3 separate regions of the Homo sapiens genome follow, and regions 1 and 2 are each linked to region 3. Evidence: fine-mapped expression QTL. A gene starts in region 3. Each other region holds a variant in brackets. All regions are shown on one strand. Distances are from middle to middle.

The links. PIP is the estimated chance that this variant, and not a neighbour inherited with it, causes the effect. A credible set is the group of variants that fine-mapping cannot tell apart.
Region 1: its variant is the best candidate, but not a certain one, in a credible set for the expression of GK5 in fibroblasts (GTEx, PIP 0.90).
Region 2: its variant is the best candidate, but not a certain one, in a credible set for the expression of GK5 in whole blood (INTERVAL, PIP 0.80).

What each region holds. Positions count from the first base shown.
Region 1 is chr3:142,269,437-142,276,824 of GRCh38, reverse strand. No RefSeq gene overlaps it. Among named protein-coding and RNA genes, the nearest start is that of GK5, 48 kb to the right of the region's middle. The variant C/T (reference allele first, on the strand shown) is at 3,699.
Region 2 is chr3:142,158,532-142,165,445 of GRCh38, reverse strand. It overlaps GK5 (glycerol kinase 5), which reads left to right. Exons shown (of 16, transcript NM_001039547.3): 16 at 1-6,914. Among named protein-coding and RNA genes, the nearest start is that of TFDP2, 12 kb to the right of the region's middle. RefSeq lists an enhancer at 422-1,157. The variant TA/A (reference allele first, on the strand shown) is at 2,042.
Region 3 is chr3:142,223,370-142,230,515 of GRCh38, reverse strand. GK5 (glycerol kinase 5) reads left to right here and starts at 4,931. Exons shown (of 16, transcript NM_001039547.3): 1 at 4,931-5,207. The coding sequence starts at 5,061. RefSeq lists silencers at 4,748-4,987, 5,178-5,397.

The sequences.
Region 1 (7,388 bases), 46 kb before region 3:
CACTACAGGGTGATATAAGAAAGTAACTAAGAGTAGGATGCCAATCTCAAATTAGCAGTTATGAGACAAATGCTGGTGTTTGTAAGCAAAGGACTCAGGAGTTTAAACCCCAGAATCTGCACACATTGCAGCATAAACTGAAACAAATTAGTAAGGCAGTTTTTGTGGCCTTTGTGATTATTTATTTATTTATTTATTTATTTATTTATTCATTTATTTTTGAGACGGAGTCTCACTGTGTCGCCAGGCTGGAGTGCAGTGGCACAATCTCAGCTCACTGCAACCTCTGCCTCCCAGATTCAAGCGATTCTCCTGTCTCAGCCTCTGAGTAGCTGGGACTACAGGTGTGCGCCACCACGCCCAGCTAATTTTTGTATTTTTAGTAGAGACAGGGTTTCACCCTGTTGGCCAGGATGGTTTCGATCTTTTGACCTTGTGATCCGCCTGCCTTGGCCTCCCAAAGTGCTGGGATTACAGGCGTGTGCCACCGCACCCAGCCTGTGACTTTTTTAACCTGTAATCCACCATTGCCAGATAAATCTTCCCTGAATTCAAAACATGCACACACACACACACAAACACAGACACACACACACTTCTCCCAAATCAAGAACTTAGTCAAATACTAGCAGTCTCTCTCTCTCTTTAACCACAAAGCAAGGAGAAGAACCTACAGTCTTAACCAGTATTTATGGGGTTATCAGATAATGATTTCTCAATTACACTTCCTCTAGGTCACTAAGTGAAGTAAGTCATCATTTTTTGCCAGAAATAACATCATCTGGTATTTCTACACTTATGAACAGCAAGTAATACAAGTTACAATTATATGAATCATCTTTGATTCTGCCTTTCCTTCCCCCTTCCTCGCCTCCCAAATCCAGTTGGTTCCCAAGTCCTAGTGTGTTGTTATCTCCTGTATCTGCCCTCTTCTCTCCATCCGTATGGTTAATGCCTTCATGCAGGTCCTCTTCCTCTCATATTTGGACTGTTGCAATAGTCCACTATTTTCCCTCCTTTCAGTCTTGAACCACTTCAGTCCATAAAAATAACTGTAAGAAATACTGTTCACAGATCAAGCACTTCATAAGCATTCTGTCATTTAACCTTTACCACACTGTCATGAGAGAGCCATTATTATTCCTGTTTTCTGATTAAAACTCAGGGAAATGAAGTGACTTACATGGGAACACACAGATGGTGAATGGTAAAGGCAGAATTCAAATCTAAATCTGCATGATCCTAAAGCCAGAGACTGAGACACCATGCAACACTGCCTGCCTCCCCACTCTGCTATCAGAGGCTTCTGCTAAAATGAAACTGACCTGCTTCCTGGCTCAGAATTCTTCAATCACACCCCATTGCCAATTGCAGGGAATCTTTTTTAAAGCCATAGAATCCTTTAATCAATAAGATTGAAAGCATTATTCTTCTATATAAAGCAGATAAAAATGTAGCTGACATGCTTGGTGCAGGTGTGGAGATCTAGCTGACTTGCAATGGTAGTGCCAAGAGATGTGTGGACTCCCACAATTTAATGGAAAACATTCATAAGATTCTTCCCATTGTTTGATGTAAAAGTAGTGTTAGGTAAAACATTATGTAAAATAAAGATTCAAGCTTTCTCTTCCAGCCAGATAGATGTCTCTCAGTGACTTTACTGCAGTTCTCCCACGCTCACTGCAACTCATCTTTTCCCTCTGCTCCCCTCCCAGTTCTAGACCTGAGGCTCTGGCCCTTGCACTCCAGATTGGGCAATAGGAGTGAAACTCCATCTCAAAAAAAAAAATAAATAAATAAACCTAAAATAAAATAAAGGGAATCCAAATAGGTACAGAGGAATTTAAACTGTCACTGTTTGCTGACAATATGATCCTTTACCTTGAAAACCATAAAGACTCCTCCAGAAAGCTCCTAGAAATTATAAAAGAATTCAGCAAAGTTTCCAGATACAAGATCAATGTACACAATTCAGTAGCTGTTCTATACACCAACAGTGGACCAAGCGGAGAATCAAATCAAGAACTCAACCATTTTTACGATAGCTGCAAAAAAAAAAAAAAGGTAGAAATATACCTAACCAAGGAGGCAAAAGACCTCCACAAGGAAAACTACAAAACACTGCTGAAAGAAACCATAGACAACACAAACAAATGGAAACACATCCCATGCTTATGGATGAATAGAATCAATATTGTGAAAATGACCGTACTGCCAAAAGCAATCTACAAATTCAATGCAATTCCCATCAAAATACCACCATCATTCTTCACAGAATTAGAAGAAACAATTCTAAAATTCATATGGAACCAAAAAAGACCCCACATAGCCAAAGAAAGGCTAAGCAAAAAGAACAAATCTGGAGGTGTCACACTACCTGATTTCAAACTACACTACAAGGCCATAGTCACCAAAACAGCATGGTACTGGTATAAAAATAGGCACATAGACCAATGGAGCAAAATAGGGACTCAGAAATAAACCCAAATACTTACAGCCAACTGATCTTGGACAAAGCAAACAAAAAGATACAGTGGGGAAAGGACACACTTTTCGACAAGTGGTGCTGGGATAATTGGCAAGCCACATGTAGAAGAATGAAACTGGATCCTCATCTCTCACCTTATGCAAAAACCAACTCAAATCTAAAACCTGAAACTATAAAAATTCTAGAAGATCAAGCACTTTGGGAGTCTGAGGCGGGCGGATCACAAGGTCAGGGAGATCAAGACCATGGGCCTGTCGTGGGGTGGGGGGCTGGGGGAGGGATAGCATTAGGAGAAATACCTAATGTAAATGACGAGTTAAAGGGTGCAGCAAACCAACATGGCACATGTATACCTATGTAACAAACCTGCACGTTGTGCGTGTGTACCCTAGACCTTAAAGTATAATTTAAAAAAAAAAAAGGAAGAAGAAAAAACATGGAGATAAAAAGACCACCATCAGATATTGGCTGGGAAAGGAAGTTGAGACTGACATTGCAGAGTGGTTACTCCCAGGCAACAAAGAATTAATACTAATTCATTCAAATGAGAGAGTGTCATCTGCTCACACTGTAATTGGCTATTAAAGCTTAGTAATTGATACCAAGAGACTTTGGCTCCCAGCATTTGGCCCAGCTGTCATGAAGTCAGCACAGTCAAGACTGACAAAGAAGCTTTGTTGTTGCTCATGGTGATCACTGAGAGTTTTAGACAAAGAAAAATCATTCTTAGAATATGGGGTCTTTGGCTTGCTGAAAAAAATGTCTGTCCAATTTCCTTGCCAAGTTTTAAGACTCCAAACAGTAAGAAGGATGAGTTTGATGATGTATATTTTGTTATTTCTTTACTTATTATTGCTTTCCCACTACAGTTTATTATAAATATTTCCAAATGCACACAAAAAGGGAACAATATGTCAGTGAACATCCATGTACACATTCGTTATATTCTACCATTAACATTTTCCTCTTCTTACTTCAGCGTATACTGCTCCTTCTATCCATCTCTCTTTCCATCTAACAATCCATCTTATTTTGTATACATTTCCAAGTAACTTGTAGACATCAGTATATTTTCTCCCCCAAAATTTCAACGTGCATATCATCAACTACAGTTCAATATTTGTACGGTTTGTTTTTGTTTCTTTTGAGGTAAAATTTACAAAAAATGAAATGCACAAATCTTAAGTGTACTAATTCATGAGGTTCAGCA[C/T]GTATATACACATGCAACCTAAACCATGATCAAGACACTGAACATCACCATCACCCACAGAAAATTCCTTCATAGCTGATCCAATGACTCTCCACCCCCAACCCCCAGAAACAACCATTGTTTTGAAATTTTTCCACCACAGATTAGTTTTCCCAGTTGTAGAACTTTATATCAATGGAGTAATACAGTATGTATTGTTTGCGTAAGGTTTCTTTTTCTCAATATAATGTTTTGGGATTCATTCATGCTATTGTGTGCATCAGTAATCTGATTCTCTTTATTTCTGAATAGTAGTCCATTGTGTGGAGAATACAGCTAGTTATTTATTCTTTAACTGATGGCCAGCTGGGCTATTTCCGGTTTGCCACTCTTAGGAATAAAGCAGCTATGAACATCCTTGTACAAGTCTTTTTGGGGACATTTGTTTTCCTTTATCTTGGGTGAATACCTAGGAATTGAATTTGTGGGTCATAAGATAGGCATTTGTTTATTTTCAGAAGAAACTGTCAGGCTTTTTGTAAAGTGGGTGTGCCATTTTACGTTCCCACCAATGACAGATGAGAATCCAGGCTACTTCACGTCCCCGCCAACATTTGTCTTGTCAGTCTTCAATTTTTACCAGTCTGTTTGATATATAGGGGTTCTGTTTATTTATTTACCAAAACAGGGTCTCGCTGTGTCACCCAGGCTGGAGTGCAGTGCTGTGATCATGACTCACTCACTATACCTCCACCTTCTGGACTCAAGCAATCCTCCCACCTCAGCCTCCCAAGTATCTGACACTATAGGTATGTGCCGCCACGCCTGGCTAATTTTTAAATTTTTTGTAGAGACAAGGTCTCACTATGTTGTTTAGGCTGGTCTGAAACTCCTGAGCTCAAGCGATGTTCCCACCTCAGCCTCCCAAAGTGTTGGGATTACTGGCATGAGCCACCATGCCAACTTATTTATTTTTTGATAAATACATTAACACAACCAGATCTATTTACTTTTTCTACTTTAGACAACAAAGTCAGGTTATTTTTAGAAAAATCAGTCATGCGCACTTAGAGAAATTGATAAAACTTTGTTTTCTTGTACTCAGGGAATTAGAATATTTTATTTTATATATTCTTTTTTTTTTCCTTTGGTAGACAATTCCACTGGAAAATTAGGAATTTTTTTTGTTTTTTGAGATGGAGTCTCGCTCTTTCGCCCAGGCTGGAGTGTAGTGGCACGATCTCGGCTCACTGCAAGCTCTGCCTTCCGGATTCAAGCCATTCTCCTGCCTCAGCCTCCCGAGTAGCTGGGACTACAGGTGCCCGCCACCATGCCAGCCTAATTTTTTGTATCTTTAGTAGAGACGGGGTTCCACCGTGTTAGCCAGGATAGTCTTGATCTCCTGACCTTGTGATCCTCCCACCTCGGCCTCCCAAAGTGCTAGGATTACAGGCACGAGCCACCGCGCCCTGCCGAAAATTAGGATATTTTTAAATGTACTTGCATTCTCTTTTCTTAGACCCCGTCTTATTTTTGGACTTGCAGTTTTTTATTGTGGTAGAATACACATAATAAAATATGCCATTTTTGGTATTAAGAACATTCATGGTGTTGTGCAGCCATCACTACTACCTAATTTCAGAACATTTTTATCATCCCAATGGGAACTCTGTACCCATTAAGAAGTCATTCTCTACTCTTTTTCCTCACAGCCCAGGCAACCACAAATCTGCTGTCTACTGTGTTTTTTGTTTGTTTGTTTGTTTTTGAGACAGGGTCCTGCTCTGTTGCCCAGGCTGGAGTGCAGTGGCACAATCTCAGCTCACTGCAACCTCCACCTCCTGGGCTTAAGTGATCCTCCCACCTCAGCCTCCCTAGTAGCTGGAACCACAAGCACAGGCCACCATGCCTGGCTAAATTTTTTTGTATTTTTTTTAATAGAGATGAGGTTTTGTTATGTAGCCCAGGATGGTCTCGAACTCCTGGGCTCTAGTGATCCACAAGCTTCAGCCTCCCAAACTGCTGGGATGACAGCCATGAGCCACCACGCCCGGCCGTCTGCTCCCTATTGTATGGATTTGCCTACTATAGGTATTTCATACAAATGGAATTATACAGTATGTGGCTGTTTTGTGATTATATGATATAAGGTATAATTACAGTTCCTTTGCATGGCCGGACACTCAAAAACGCTACCATGCAGGACCACACCTGGGGACAGGGTAACAGCAAGCTGGAACTGTAGAAGCAGCTTATGTATGACAAACAGGGTGGGGTTAGCTGGGTGTTGTGGGCTTCCTAAAGATTGGGTATTCTGAATAATTCCATGGGCCCCAGGAAGAAGAGCCAGTCCCTGGCTGTGGGTACCTTGGGGCCTCTTGCAGTTGAGTGTGTATGAACAGAAATCCAGAGTGCTACAGCCCAAGAAAGGAAGTGGCTAGGGTGGAGCCTTAGCAAACTGCCCATGAAGGGAAATTGAGAGGTGTAGACATGACCTCAAAACTGAGTCAAGACAGCACTTGTGAAATATGATTTTACTACCATGACCTCAAAACAGGATCAAGACAGCATTTGTGAAATAAGACAGGATAGCACCCGTGAACAACAAGAACCTGAGGTGTGAAGTCGCCGGGATGGAGAGTTAGCAAACTGTCCACAAAGGGGCAGCAAGACTTTTAGCCAAGTTTTAGCTTGACTCAAAATTGGGTCAAGATAGAACTTGTGAAATATTCTATTACAGTGGCCTTTTGCGTTAGGCTTCTCTCACCTAACATAGTGCGTCCGGGGGTCATCCATGTTGCAGCGTGTATCAGTCCTTTCTTTTCAAGGCTGAATAATATTCCACTGTATCCCATATTTTGTTTATTCATTCAGCTGCTTAATGGGCATGAGGGTTGCTTCCACCTTCTGGCTATGGTGACTTGTGCTGCTGAAAACATTAATGTGCAAGTTTTTATTTGTGCACCTGTTTTCAGTTCTCAAGGGCATATACCTAGGATGAAATTGCTGGGGGTTATGATTTAACTTATTGAGATGCCTTGAAAGGAAAGCATTTTCCACAGCAGCTATATCATTTTTCACTTCTACCAGCAATGTGCTGTGTTTCTTTACATACTTAACAACACTTATTTTCTATTTTTTAAAATTATGACCATCCTAGTGGGTGTGAAGTGGTATGTAGTCGTGGTTTTAGCTTGCATTTCCTTAATGACTAATGACAATGAGAATCTTTTCACTGGCTTGTGGGCCATTTGTATCACTTCTTTTAAGAAATGTCAAGTCTCTTTCCCATGTTCTATTGAGTTGTTTGTCTTCTTACAGGAAGTCTCTTTTAACTCCAAAAAACAACCTTCTTTCTCCAAATAATTTTATCTTATTTTTAGTATTTGCAGTGTTAATAGGGGATTAAGGTTTGTTTATTCCAACATGTGATATTTTTAAGGCATGGTAAAACAAAGAGTGTGCATTGTTTACCTAAAAGGATCAACTTTTCAGATGACACTATTCTAGTTTTATGAAAAGAGCTGAATATCCTGATTAGAAGGTATTACGTTGCAATGAAATTCAAATCTTTAAATCCTATTATCAGAACCGGTGGCAAAAACATTGCTTTTGTAATTGAAGAAGTTAAACACAATGGAGAAATAGTGAGTCTCCTCAATTAAACCTCATTAATCCTCCAAAATAATTTTTAATGTAGACAAAATACTG
Region 2 (6,914 bases), 65 kb after region 3:
TCCCCTAAACCATGGTAAGGCAGCAATACCTCAAAACTTTATATCTTCTATTTTGTAGCAAATTCCAAAGGACATTAGTCATTTCCAACCACATTTTGACAGTTATGGGTCCTCTTCCTTTTTATACTGGGTCAGTGGTACATAGGAACATAATGATTTACCATCCAAGCTAATAGTTCTGGGTCAAGTACCATGCACATATTGTTCCAAAATTATGTGAAACGTATTTCTTTAATTCTTTAAGTGGGCTATTTGAAGTACATATAGCTAAAAAGAAAGAATAACTGAGAAAATGTGGAATTTTGAAACATTAATATTTTATGTTTAAAGCCATAATTTCCTAATATTATATCCAAATATGAGCTTAATATGTCCCTCTCAGATAAGCTTATGAGATAGTTAATGCTTTCCTTTACTGGTCTTAAAGACACTGCCTTAATTTTTCCTTGTTCAACCAAAATCTGAGCATTCTTTCTATGTTGAAAACACTGAAAAACTAATTTTAGTTAATGAACTAGAAAGAATATTGATTTTTAAGAAACAGAAAAATACTACTTATTTTCCTTCTCAAATAACGTTTCTTTCAAAAACTTCTGGCTGAAGTATAACATGCTGGTAGTTAACATAAATCTTGTCTTTCTCTTGTTCTTTATCTTTCTTTGTTATTTAGATGCTTGTATAAATGTCTTTTGTTTTTATTAAGTGCCTAATTGACAGAGCTTAATTTGAAGAAGTGCCCTAATTTATTGACCACTTAAGAATTGCCTTTATTGGGGTATTTTATTTGTTCCTGCGTCTTTTTGATGTTTGTTCAGTCTACTCATCCCTGTGAGTATGTGTGGGGGACAGCTGATAGAAGGGAGGAGAGTGTGTCTATGCTCAGGATTGCCCTTTAGCCACTCAGCCAGAGATCCACAGGGAGCAACAAGGACAGTTTCACATGCTTAGACTTTCTTGGAAGAAACAGTGAGGAGGAGTAAGTCGTGAGTAGTGTCAAGCTGGATGTAGAATTGTCCTAAGGCAGTTGACCCCACCTTCCAACATGTTTTCACTTTATTTGCCCCTCCCTACATTTGGGTTAGGTTCCATTTGGATTTGCAGCAATAATGACTTTATTTCTCTCTTGGTCAGGATTTGGCACATAAAATCCTTTTATTATAGAACTAGCTATTTTAGTTACATAGTAATGTAACTAATGGAGAGATTTATAGAGAATTTTGTTTTTGCTGTCATATATGTCCATTTTGGAGACAGATATGATAGAACTAGAAATTAAGTTGCATTTCTGCAAGTGCCATTTGAATGAACTTCAAGTATCTTCTTAATTATTAAATTTTCTGATGAAGGCATTGTAACAAATATATAGTATTATTAAATCTAATTAATATTTGGAAATATTAATAAATAGGTATTTTATTTACTGTAAAAAGTCAAACTTCATTATGTAGATAAATCTTATTCTTTTCATTCTTTCCCCTGTTTACATCCTTTTTACAAAGCTTAGTCACCAATTAAAGCTTTCCTATCAAAATCACATGGAAGCTGCTCTGTTGTTTTACTGTTACACATTCTGTTTCTCAGTGGGTGTAATTTTTTTTTCTTTTTCTTTTTTTGTAGAGACAGGGTCTTGCTGTGTTGCCCAGGGTAGTCTTTAATTCCTGGCCTCAAGTGATCCTCCCACCTTGGCCTCCCAAAGTGCTGGGATTGCAGCCGTGAACCACTGCACCCAGCCAATGGGTGTAATTTCATAGGAAATAATTCTTTTTGTCAGAATGTACTGAATTGTAATATTAATACCTGAAAATTTGTTAGTTCACTTCTTTTCCACGTTCTTCTTTCCCAACATATAACCACAAAATAAAGGATAAATACTTTGGGCTGTGTGCAGTGGCTCATGCCTGTAATCCCAGCACTTTGGCAGGCTGAAGTGGGCGGATCATTTGAGGTCAGGAGTCCAACCTGGTCAAACACGGTGAAACCCTGTCTCCACTAAAAATACAAAAATTAGCTGGATGTGGTGGTGCAAGCCTGTAATCCCAGC[TA/A]CTCGGGAGGCTGAGGCAGGAGAATTGCTTGAATCTGGGGGGTGGAAGTTGCAGTGAGCCAAGATCATGCCACTGCACTGTAGCCTGGGCAACAGAGCGACACTGCGTCTCAAAAAAAAAAAAAAAGGATCAATACTTTTCAGATAATGTTGGAAAGTAACTTTGAATGTCCCTCATCGGAATTGAGCATCTCCTCAAGTGTCAGTGGCTATTTTTTTCTTCTGTGAATCTAAAAACTAATATTTTATTTTTAATATTTGTGGCCATTTTTAGTGATAAGACTTTAATAAATATTTTTGGACTTAACTAAAATCAGAAACATGACCACATTTGCTTTTGTGGTTGCAGAAACAGTTGATAAGATCAATTGAGCAACAAAATTGTCCTTTCTTTTTTTTTTTTTTTTTTGAGACATTGTCATGCTCTGTTGCCCAGGCTGGAGTGCAGTGGCATGATCTCGGCTCACTGCAACCTCCCTCTCCTGGGCTCAAGCAGTCCTCCTGCCTCAGCCTCCCAAGTAGCTGGGATTTCAGGTATACGTCACTACGCCCAGCTGATTTTTGTATTTTTAGTAGAGACAGGGTTTTACCATGTTGGCCAGGCTGGTCTCAAACTCCTGACCTTGTGACCCACCCACCTCGGCCTCCCAAAGTGCTAGGATTACAGGCGTGAGCCACCATGCCTGGCTTGTCCTTTCTGTCTTCCAAGTTTGTTTTTCATTTGTATGCTAATATTTGAAGTTTAGAAAAATTTGTGCTACTTCTCAGCATGTTTTATTTTCCCATTATAGATCTATCAGATATTTTTAGAAGGTCTGCAACTGTCTGATAAAGGAAGAGAATGTTCCTGTTCAATCTATCTTAAAGTGCTACTAATTGCTTTTATACTATAGACATACTGATTTTTTCATCTTTTTTATCCAACCATGGCATGGTTTCCTAATCTCAGCATTGACATTTTGGACTGGATAAATCTTTATTTTGGGATGCTATGCTGTACTTTATAGGATGTTTAGCAATATCCCTGACCTCTGCCCTCTAGCTACAAGTACCATCCCCCTAGTTGTTATGGCCAAAAATGTCTTCAAACATTGCCATTCTGAGAGGCAAAATTGCCCCCAGTTGAGAGCCACTGATACAGGCTGTTAGAAGAAAATCGAAGACTCAGTGAATATAGTGTCATACTCCTTTTCTTTCTGCCTCATTTTACCTTAGGAAATGGTTGTTAGCAAAAAAATTAGTTAATCGTATCTTGAAATAAATAGGGTATCTATTTTGCTGATTAATAAAGAAAAAATAAATCTCAGCTGGGCACAGTGGCTCACACCTGTAATCCTAGCACTTTGGGAGGCCAAGGCAGGCGGATCACTTCAGCTCAGGAGTTTGAGACCAGCCTGGGCAACCTGGCGAATCCCTATCTCTACAAAAAATACACAAATTAGCTGGGTGTGGTGACACACACATATAGTCCCAGCTAATTAGGGGGCTGAGGTGGGAAGATCACTTGAGCTCCAGGAGGTGGAGGCTGCAGTGAGCCAAGTTGGTGTCACTGTACTCTAGCCTGGGTGGCAAAGTGAGACCCTGTCTCAATCAATCAATCAATCAATCAATCAATATCTCATGCTGTAATTGTCTTCTGATGTTTTCATCCACCCAGCCCCACCTCTGCAGCCTTAATTACTGGAGTAGGTCCATGATTTCAGTGTAGGGTTAATGTATTCTGCAGATCATCTTTGATTTGACCTGCTTTTTTGCTTCCTTTTTATCTCTGAACAAAGGAGATCATCATTCTCTTTAATCTGCCTTCTGTGTAAATCTCTACCAGACTGGAAGCTCCCTGAAAGCAGAAACTGTCTGCTTCCCCAGAACTTAGCACTGTGCTTTCATGTATGTGGGATAAATTTTTACTTTGTTAGTGCAACTTTGTTTGTACACGTTATCCTTGATATTACATACATTTGTTGATGGGGGCAATTTATATTTGTTGTGAGTAAAATACTTTTTTGTTGGATTAAGAAGAACTATACTCTTCCCAGCACTTTGGGAGGCCAAGGAGGACGGATTACCTGAGGTTAGTAGCTTGAGACCAGCCTGACCAACATGGAGAAACCCCATCTCTATTAAAACTACAAAAAAATTAGCTGTGCGTTGTGGCACATGCCTGTAATCCCAGCTAGTCAGGAGGCTGAGGCAGGAGAACCGCTTGAACCCCTGAGGCAGAGGTTGCGGTTGAGCCGAGATCGCGCCATTGCACTCCAGCCTGGGCAACAAGAGTTAAACTCCATTTCAAAAAAACAAAAACAAAAACAAAAACAAAAAAACAAAAGAAGAACTACTCTGTAGTGAGAGCTAGAATCCTCATGTTGTTTATTTAAAATTTTTGGCCAAGTACAGTGGCTCATGCCTGTAATCCCAGCACTTTGGGAGGCTGAGGCCAGAGGATCACTTGAAGCCAGGAGTTCAGTTACAGCTTGGGCAGCAAAGTGAGACCTTGTCTCTACAAAAAAATTTTTTTTAAATTAGCCAGGTGTGGTGGTATGCCCCTGTAGTCCCAGCTACTCAGGAAACCGAAGCAGGAGAATCGCTTGAACACAGGAGTTTGAGGGTGCTATGAGCTATGATTGTGCCACTGCACTCCAGCCTGGGCAACAGGGCAAGGCCCTGTCTTAATAAAATAAAATAAAATTCTTAATATGTTTATATATTTGAAAAACTATTTGTGTAGAGACACATGTCTGTAAATACACATAGATATATTAACTTTTTAAGCTTTAATTGAAGCCTTTCTCTTCACAGGTTTTATATATTTGACTGCAGATGACTAACAGATTGAATTTTAAGAGTGCGAAACACTCTGGTGCTATAGGGAAGGAACTTCATAAATAGCCCCTCCTGTAAGGGACCAGTCTTTAATTTAAAACAGTCCAGCCCAGGAATCTTGCAAGAATTTTGTAATTATTTGAGGAGAGATGTAGATATACCCTGGAGTTCTTTGACTTTAAGTTATTCTAGAGTCATCCCAGAGATGGCCTAGAAGACTTGAATGTACCCCAAAGGATTCTGAATCCCTTTGGGAAATTTAGACTATGATTTTCAGTAAGAATTAAAAGCCCCAGGATAAGCGTGGTGGTTCACACCTGTAATCCCAGCAATTTGTGAGGCCAAGGCGGGAGGATCGCTTGAGCTCAGGAGTTCGAGACCAGCCTAGGCAACATAGTGAGACCCCACCCATCTCAATTTAAAAAAAGAGAGAAAAAGGCCAGGTGTAGTGGCTCACGCCTGTAATCCCAGCACTTTGGGAGGCCAAGGCGGGTGGATCACCTGAGGTCAGGAGTTCAAGACCAGCCTGATCAATATGGTGAAACCCCATCTCTACTAAAAATACAAAAATTAGCCAGTCCTGATGGCATGTGCCTGTGGTCCCAGCGACTTGGGAGGCTGAGACAGGAGAATTGCTTGAACCCGGGACGTGGAGGTTGCAGTGAGCCGAGATTGGGCCACTGCATTCCAGCCTGGGTGAGAGAGCGAGACTCTGTCTCAAAAAAAAAAAAGAGAGAGAGAGAGAGAGAGAGAGAAAGCCCCAAACATACCTTGGGCCTTTACAACCTACTTGGTCCCAGAATCGTCTTATTGTAAACCCAAAGCCAGGTCTTCTGGTTCGAACCAGTCAAAATGGGTAATCTAAAAAAGTTAAATAGATGATTCAAAATCGTGTTGGTGGTTTTTTCTTTTTAAATCCCCTTTCCAAGTAAAAGGAATCTTTTTTTTTTTTTTAAGTTTTGAAGCCTCATAGCCATAAATATTTTGGCACCAGCATCTATTGGCACCTAAGTCATTGGCTGTATCATATTCCCATGGGACCCTTGTTCCTAGAGGAATGCAGGAATGATCTTGGAGTGGGAAGGACAGAAACAGGTGCTTGCAAAATCAGATATTTCTGAAATTCTCTGTTATTCTATTTCTACTGTCTTTCCCCACTTTACTATAAATTTGATCTGTTATAAAATGGCTGTGTTTAGATAGATACCCGTGATGTTTAGGAAACAAATGATATAGAGACTCCCATTTAAATGAATCTTATCTTTATAAGAAACAGCCAAACTGTTTTCCAGACTGGCTATACCATCTTACATTCCCACCAGGAATGTATGAGTGATCCAGTTTCTCTGCATGCTCGCCAGCATTTGGTGTTGTCACTATTTCTTATTTCAACCATTCTGTTTATCCTTTTCAGTGAAATATCTGTTCATATCTTTTGCCCATTTGCCAATTGAGGCAGGAGGATCACTTGAGCCCAGGAGTTCGAGGCTGCAGTGAGATATGATCACTAAATGTTTGCTTAATGAGCCATATCTTTAAATATCTTTTTTAAAGTTTTTAAAAGTCAGTCCAGTGGTTTATGTGATTATGTGGGATTTTTTAAATCTTTCCAGGCAAAATGTGTATAGCATTTTGAACATATTTACACTGTACTGAGCCCAAGAGTTCTCATATTCTTTCTTTGCTCATTATAGAGTATGGTACTAATACTGTATAATAGTAAATTTTCAAAGATACCTTTATTTAGAATGTTAGAGTATACAGATATATACTTTGTACATAGTTATCATAATGTTTCTAACCTTTTTATTTAAAGCAGGCTGATTTGTGTAAAGGTTTCAGAATGATTTTGTTAATAAGTTATTAGAAACTTTCCTATTTGTACAAGATGGTAAATGTAGATTCCAATTTGTATGCCTCAGTAAATTCATAATCTTATTTCTCTGATGTGAGCCACTGTGCCTGGCCTTCTGTGATGCTCTTAATGAATTTTGCAGTTTTATTAAATTGTCATTGAGAACCTCATAAATCATTGTTAAGATCTATACAAAAA
Region 3 (7,146 bases):
CAACCTAACTGTCCATCAACAGATGAAATGGATAAAGAAAATATGGTATTACACATAATGGAGTACTATTCAGCCATTAAAAAAATGAGATCTTGTCATTTACAACAACTTGGATGGAAATGGAGGTCATTATGTTAGGTGAAATAAGCCAGGCACAGAAAGACAAAGTTCACATGTTCTCAGTTATTTGTGGGAGCTACAAATTAAAATAATTGAACTCATGGAGATAGAGAGTAGAAGGATGGTTACCAGGGGCTGGGAAGGGTAGTGGACAGGGGTGAGGGGTAGGGCCGGGGGAAGTGAGGATAGCTAATAGGTATAAAAAATGGAAGGAGTAATAAGATCTAGTATTTGATAGCACGACAGGGTGTCTATAGTTAAAAATCACATTTTTTTATTTCAATAGCTTTTGGGGTACAAGTGGTTTTGGGTTACATGGATGAATTATATAGTGGTGAATTCTGACATTTTAGTGTACCAGTCACCTGAGTAGTGTACATTGTACCCAGTAGGTAGCTTCTTATCACACACCCCCGTCCCACCCTCCCATTTCTGGGTCTCCAAAGTCCGTTATATGACTTTGTGTACCTTTGTGTACTTAGCTCCTACTTCTTTGGTTTTCCATTCCTGGGTTAATTCACTTAGAATAATGGGCTCCAGCTCCATCCAAGTTGCTGTAAGACATTATTTGATTCCTTTTTATGGTTGAGTAGTATTCCATAGTGTGTGTATATATATATACCATATTTTCTTTATTCACCCATTAGTTGATGGGCACTTAGGTTGGTTCCATATCTTTGCAATTGTGAATTGTGCCATAATAAATATATTTGTGTAGGTGTATTTTTCATATAATGACTTATTTTCTTTTGGGTAGATACCCAGTAATGGGAATCCTGGATCAAATGGTAGATCTACTTTTAGCTCTTTTAAGGAATCTCCACACTGTTTTTCATAGAGGCTGTACTAATTTACATTCCCAACAGCAGTCTGTGTTCCCCTTTCACCACATTCACACCAACATCGACTATTTTTTGATACAGTCAATTTAGTTGTACATTAAAAATAAGAGTATAATTTGATTGTTTGCAACACAAAGGATAAATGCTTGACATAAAAGATACCCTATTTACCTTGATGTGATTATCATGCCTGTATCAAAATATCTCATGTAACCCAAAAATATATACACCTACTATGTATCCATAAAATTTTTTAAAAATTAAGAAAAAAGAATGACTGACCAGCTATCAAAGGCCTTAGAAGCCTCTGAGCCCTGTGCCTTGTTGCCCATATACTCCTTTCCCTTAGAGAAGAGCAGGGTTAGAGGTGCTGACAGAGAACAAAGCAAGTGGGAGAAACAGGTATCTCTTTGTTCTCCCAGGCCTCTCCTACTCAACAGTGAAATAAGATCTTGATTTTTATCTGAGATCTTTATGTTTGCTTTACCCAACACCCAGCACCTGAAGTTATGTGCAAAATTTTGTGTGTATAAGCATCTTCTTGGGAAGATAGTGTTCATTATGGCCTCAAAGTTGTTCAAGATCTGAAAACAATTTGAGAAACACTAGATTAAGTGGTTTCTAAGGCCCCTGTTTTCAAATTCTATGATTTGATAATACTCAATATAATTTATTTGAATTTATAAAAAGGATCATTAAGGAAGTGTCAGGTTTCAAGAAGCCAAGAAATATCACTTTGAGAAATATACTAAATATTAACATCAGGTAATACAAAGCCGTTTTCTCTGTTGTGAATGGGGAACTGATATGGTTACTATTATGTGTGAACTTGGCTAGGCTAGTTAGACACACTGTATGCCCAGCTGTTCGGTCAAACACCAGTCTAGGTGTTGTTGTGAAGGTATTTCTTAGAAATAATTAACATTTAAATTAGTAGACTTTGAGTAAAGCAGATCACCCTTCATAACCTGGGTGAGTCTCATACAATTGGTTTTAAGCTTTAAGAACAAAGACAGGTTTCCCAAAGAAGGAAGTCTCCTCAAAACTGCAACATGGAAACTCTTCTTGAGTTTCCAGCCTGCTAGCCTGCCCCACAAATATCCAGGACTTGCCAGCCCTCACAATCACATGAAGCAATTCCTGAAAATAATAAACCTCTCTTTCTCTTTCTCTCTATCCTATTGTTTCTATTTCTCTGTAGAACCCTGACAAGTACTGGACCCATTAGTCATTTATTTCGAATTACAATAATTCACACACACACACGACCAAAATGGCCAGCACTGGTGAAGGCAGTCAGTCCTTGAGGCCACTTGGAACAAATCAGTACTGTTGAACAGGGTACAAAGAAAAAAAACATACTCTTCCAGGTGTATGTTCCAAGCTTCACGTTGTATGGCCAAAGAGCCAATTTTGTCAAATTGTCTGAAAGCAAGTTGATTAACACGACAATTTGGTCAAAAGAATGACTTGGCCCTGTGCAGTGGCTCACGCTTGTAATCCCAGCACTTTGGGAGGCCGTGGCGGGCGGATCACGAGGTCAGGAGATCCAGACCATCCTGGCTAACATGGTGAAACCCCGTCTCTACTAAAAATACAAAAATTAGCTGGGCATGGTGGAGAGGGCCTGTAGTCCCAGCAACTTGGGAGACTGAGGCAGGAGAATCGCTTGAATCCGGGAGGCGGAGGTTGCAGTGAGCCGAGATCGCAGCACTGCACTCCAGCCTGGGCAAACAAGGGCAAAACTCCGTCTCAAAAAAGAAAAAAAAAAAAAAAGAATGATTTGGCTGGGCACAATGGCTCACACCCATAATCCCAGCACTTTGGGAGACAAAGGTGGGAGGATCACTTGAGGCCAGGAGCTCAAGACCAGCCTGGCCAATATGGCGAAACAGAGTCTCTACAAAAAAATGCAAAAATTAGGCGGGCGTGGTGGTTGTAGTCCCAGCTACATGGGAGGCTAAGGCAGTTGGATCGCCTGAGCCCGGGAGGTCGAGGCTGCAGTGAGCTGAGATGGCACCACAGCACTCCAGCCTGGGCGACAGAGCAAGACCCTGTCTAAAAAAAGTTTTGATTCAAAATGAGTATGTATGTATGTATGTATGTAAGTATGTATGTATGTATGTATGTATGTATGTATGTATGTATGTATGTATTTTGAGGCAGAGTCTTGCTCTGTCGCCCAGGCTGGAGTGCAGTGGCATGATCTCGGCTCACTGCAACCTCCGCCTCCCGGCTTCAAGTAATTCTCCTGCCTCAGCCTCCCCCGTAGCTGGGATTGCAGGAGCCCGCTACCACGCCCGGCTAAGTTTTGTATTTTTGTAGAGACGGGGTTTCACCATGTTGCCCAGGCTGCTCTCAAACTCCTGACCTCAAGTGATCCGCCCGCCTCGGCCTCCGAAAGTGCTGGGATTACAGTCGTGAGCCCCCGCGCCCAGCCAAAATGATTATCTTTTACCTTTTAATTGACATACCAGTTGGCACTGTTAAACGTTTTCACACAAAACATATATTCATATGTTTGCTAATTTTACAAAAAGAAGATAAGGAATATTTTCAGGCCCCGGCTTCACAGATTGCTGGTGGCAGTGGAGAGGTGGGTGGCGCAGGTGGAACCACCTCCCCACTACTTGCAGATCAGGACCCTCCCCGGGAAAGCTCCAGGCCCAGGAACCTAAGCCGCAAGAATCTCGAAATTTCCACAGGACACCTTGTTCCTTTTGGCCAAGTGTCTGGATGAGCCCATCCCCTTGGGCAGCAACAAAAGGTAAAGGGTCTCTGTGAGGCTTTCAGATTCCAAAAAAAAGCAACCGCTGGAGTGGAGTGTGATGGTCAAAGCAGCCACCTTAAGCTTTCTCCTTTCTTTCCCACTAGAGGGCTGAGAAAAGTCTTCTTCCTTGCGTTGTATTTCATTTGGCAAATATTTACCGCTTTGTATTGTGTGCAAACTTTACCAGGTTTTCTGGGAAGAGAAGTCGTGGGGAGCTCTCAGTTTGTTAATAAATATTAATACTTTTGGCCAAATTTTGAATTTTTTATGTCACTTGTTTTATTTCATTTTTGAAAAACAGCACTTTATTTCATTTAACTCTAGCATATTCAATGGCTGTGCATTTAATAATACTGAAATAAAGTCGCACCCAAAATGTTAGCAAAAAAATGGAAACTATATATGGTAGTGACCTCTACAAATGTTTTAAGCTTGAAAAATTCTGCACGAACGCAGACACAGGTTAGTCTGCCAAAGTTACTCAGATAAAAATTTCTCCAACCCTCAAGTCATAATCATAGTTGAGAAATGAATAAATGTGCCTTATGGCACCTCCAAACTTTTTGAGATTTTTATATAAACTAGCCTATACTTCTCTCCTTACGATTAGCATATGGGGTAGCTATTTTTCTTTAACAGAGATTCTTCAAATGTAGCTAGGGTTAAGAGAAACGCTGGCGCTGCCTCTCAGGAAGCTGGAGAAGCAAAAGAAAAAATTAAGAGTTAAGGGCCGCCGGGCTCGGTGGCTCACGCCTGCAATCGCAGCAATTTGGGAAGCCGAGGCGAGCGGATCACGAGATCAGGAGATCGAGACCAGCCTGATCAACATGGTGAAACCCCTTCTCTACTAAAAATACAAAAATAGCCGGGCGTGGTGGAGCGCGCCTGTAATCCCAGCTACTCGGGAGGCTGAGGCAAGAGAATCGCTTGAACCCGGGAGGCGGAGGTTGCAGTGAGCCGAGATCGCGCCACCGCACTCCAGCCGGGGCGACAGAGTGAGACTCCGTCTCAAAAAGAAAAAAAACAAGAGTTAAGGGCCAAGTCAATCCAACCGCGGCCGGCGACTGGAGGCTGAGCATGGCTGGCGATCTGGGGCTGCAGATCACGGCGCAAACCCGCTCACCTCCACCCCTCCCGCGCGGCCGCCGGCGCGCGCCCGTGGCGTCACGGCGTCGGGGTGGAGCCGGCGGCAGGGGCCAGGCCTCTCTAGGCTCTCCGGCTGAGCCGGGTTGGGGCCCGGGTTGGGCCGCCCGGGGACTCTGGAGCATTGGGATTTGTAGCGCGCCCTCTGGGTAGGCGGCTGTAGCGGAGAGGCGTGCGGGATCGGGATGTCGGGGCTGCTCACGGACCCGGAGCAGAGAGCGCAGGAGCCGCGGTACCCCGGCTTCGTGCTGGGGCTGGATGTGGGCAGTTCTGTGATCCGCTGCCACGTCTATGACCGGGCGGCGCGGGTCTGCGGCTCCAGCGTGCAGAAGGTGACTTGGGGGCGGGCGTGGGGCGCGGGTCTGACTGGGTTTCGCTGAGTCCCGGGGTCCGGCCTCGGGAGGCGAGCGGGCAGGCCCCACCTACCGCCCTGGACGCGGCCACCTGCAGCACCCGCGGGCCCTGGGGCCAGAACGGCGCGCCCAGACCGGCTGAGTCTTCGCGTTCCCTCCCTCGTCTGGGCTGAATCCCGCGCGCCCTTCCTGTCCAGGCTGAGGGTGCCAGGGGCCCGGTGTATGACCTGGGCCGCTCGCTTGCCTCTTGCCACCTGGGGAGCCACCTGTCCGGCCTTACCTGGATGGGACTGAGGTGACTCGCCGGACGGGACTGGGCAGGCTGTGCACATCCAGCCAGAGGGTGGTTTGTGAGTTGCTTGGTTCTTCCTGCACTTCCCTGATAGATCTCCCACCACATCTTTATTTACATTTTAATTTTTCAAAACTTTTTTTCTTTTTTCTTTATTATAGCCTTTGGACTTGTGCCTCAATAACTTTTCATATCTTTGTAGAATTTAAGTTTATTCTCTATTCTTCACTTGTCATCTTTATTAACTACTACTCCACAAAATGCTGGTTCCTTACGTGAGCAACTGATTGCCGTGGATATTAGAGGTATTGGGCAAGTTTTGAAGGCTGTGTGGTCATCAGTTTTCTATTTTCCATCTTTGAGAATTCATAAAATTCTTTATTTCCCCTCGTTTGAGAGACCTGCCAAATCATTGGTTGGTTGTTAGTAAAGCCTTGAATTGTTGATAATATTGGTCAGCAACCAACAAATTGATATCCTTCTGTTCTCATATTAATGAAGTGTTGATTTATACACAATTGTCAATGCACCAAAAATAATATTTATTTGTTATGGTGTTCTTATTGTTGTTCCTTTTTTTCTTTTGAGACAGGGTCTCACTTTGTCACCCAGGCTGGAGTGCAGTGCTGTGATCTCGGCTCACTGCAGCTTTGACCTCCTGGGCTCAAGTGATCCTTCCACCTCAGCCCCCCAAGTAGCTGGGACTACAGGCAAGGGGCCACCATGCCTGGCTAAATTTGTTTGTATTTTTTAATAGAGATGGGATTTTGCCATGTTGCCCAGGCTGGTCTGGAAATTCCTGGGCTCAAATAATTCACCCGCCTCGGCCTCCCTAAGTGCCAAGATTACAGGCGTGAGCCACTGCAGCCAGCCTGTTATGGTGTTCTTATTTTCTCTTCCCAGTACCAACATCTTTTTATGTTAGAAATTTGAGGGAGGGCCGGAGCCATCAGTTACCTAACCATTCCCAGCAGCACTGTATTCCCCCTTTTTCTCAGTGTCCCGTTCTTCTTCCCACCACCTTAGAGGTGTTTTTCTTTGTAGCACTTGCCCAGGAGCAAGGTCCAGCTAGAGTGCCAGTGAGTAGTGACTGCTTTGAGCATTTGTTCTGGGGAAACATCAGACTTCCTTCCATTAAGTTTTTCTTTTTTTTCTTTTTAGACGGAGTCTCGCTCTGTCACCCAGGCTGGAGTGCAATGGCATGATCTCGGCTCACTGCAACCTCTGCCTCCTAGGTTCAAGCAAGTCTCCTGCCTCAGCCTCCTGAGTAGCTGGGATTGCAGGCACCCGCCATCATGCCTGGCTAATTTTTGTATTTTTGTAGAGACAGGGTTTCGCCATGTTGGCCAGGCTGGTCTTGAACTCTTGACCTCAGGTGAACCGCCTGCCTCAGCCTCCCAGAGCACTGGGATTATAGGCGTGTGCCACTGTGCCCGGCCTCCATTCAGGTTTCAGGACCAAGACAGTGGAACTGGGATTGTAGCAGCTCCCTGGTCCCTTCTCTGGCTAGCTGTGTGGGAACACTGCCCACCCACCCACACACTATCCCTATCCCAGCCTGAAAAGAAAAATGAAAGGCAGACACCACCCTTCAGTGACTGGGTACTCATTACCTTTCTAAGAGTA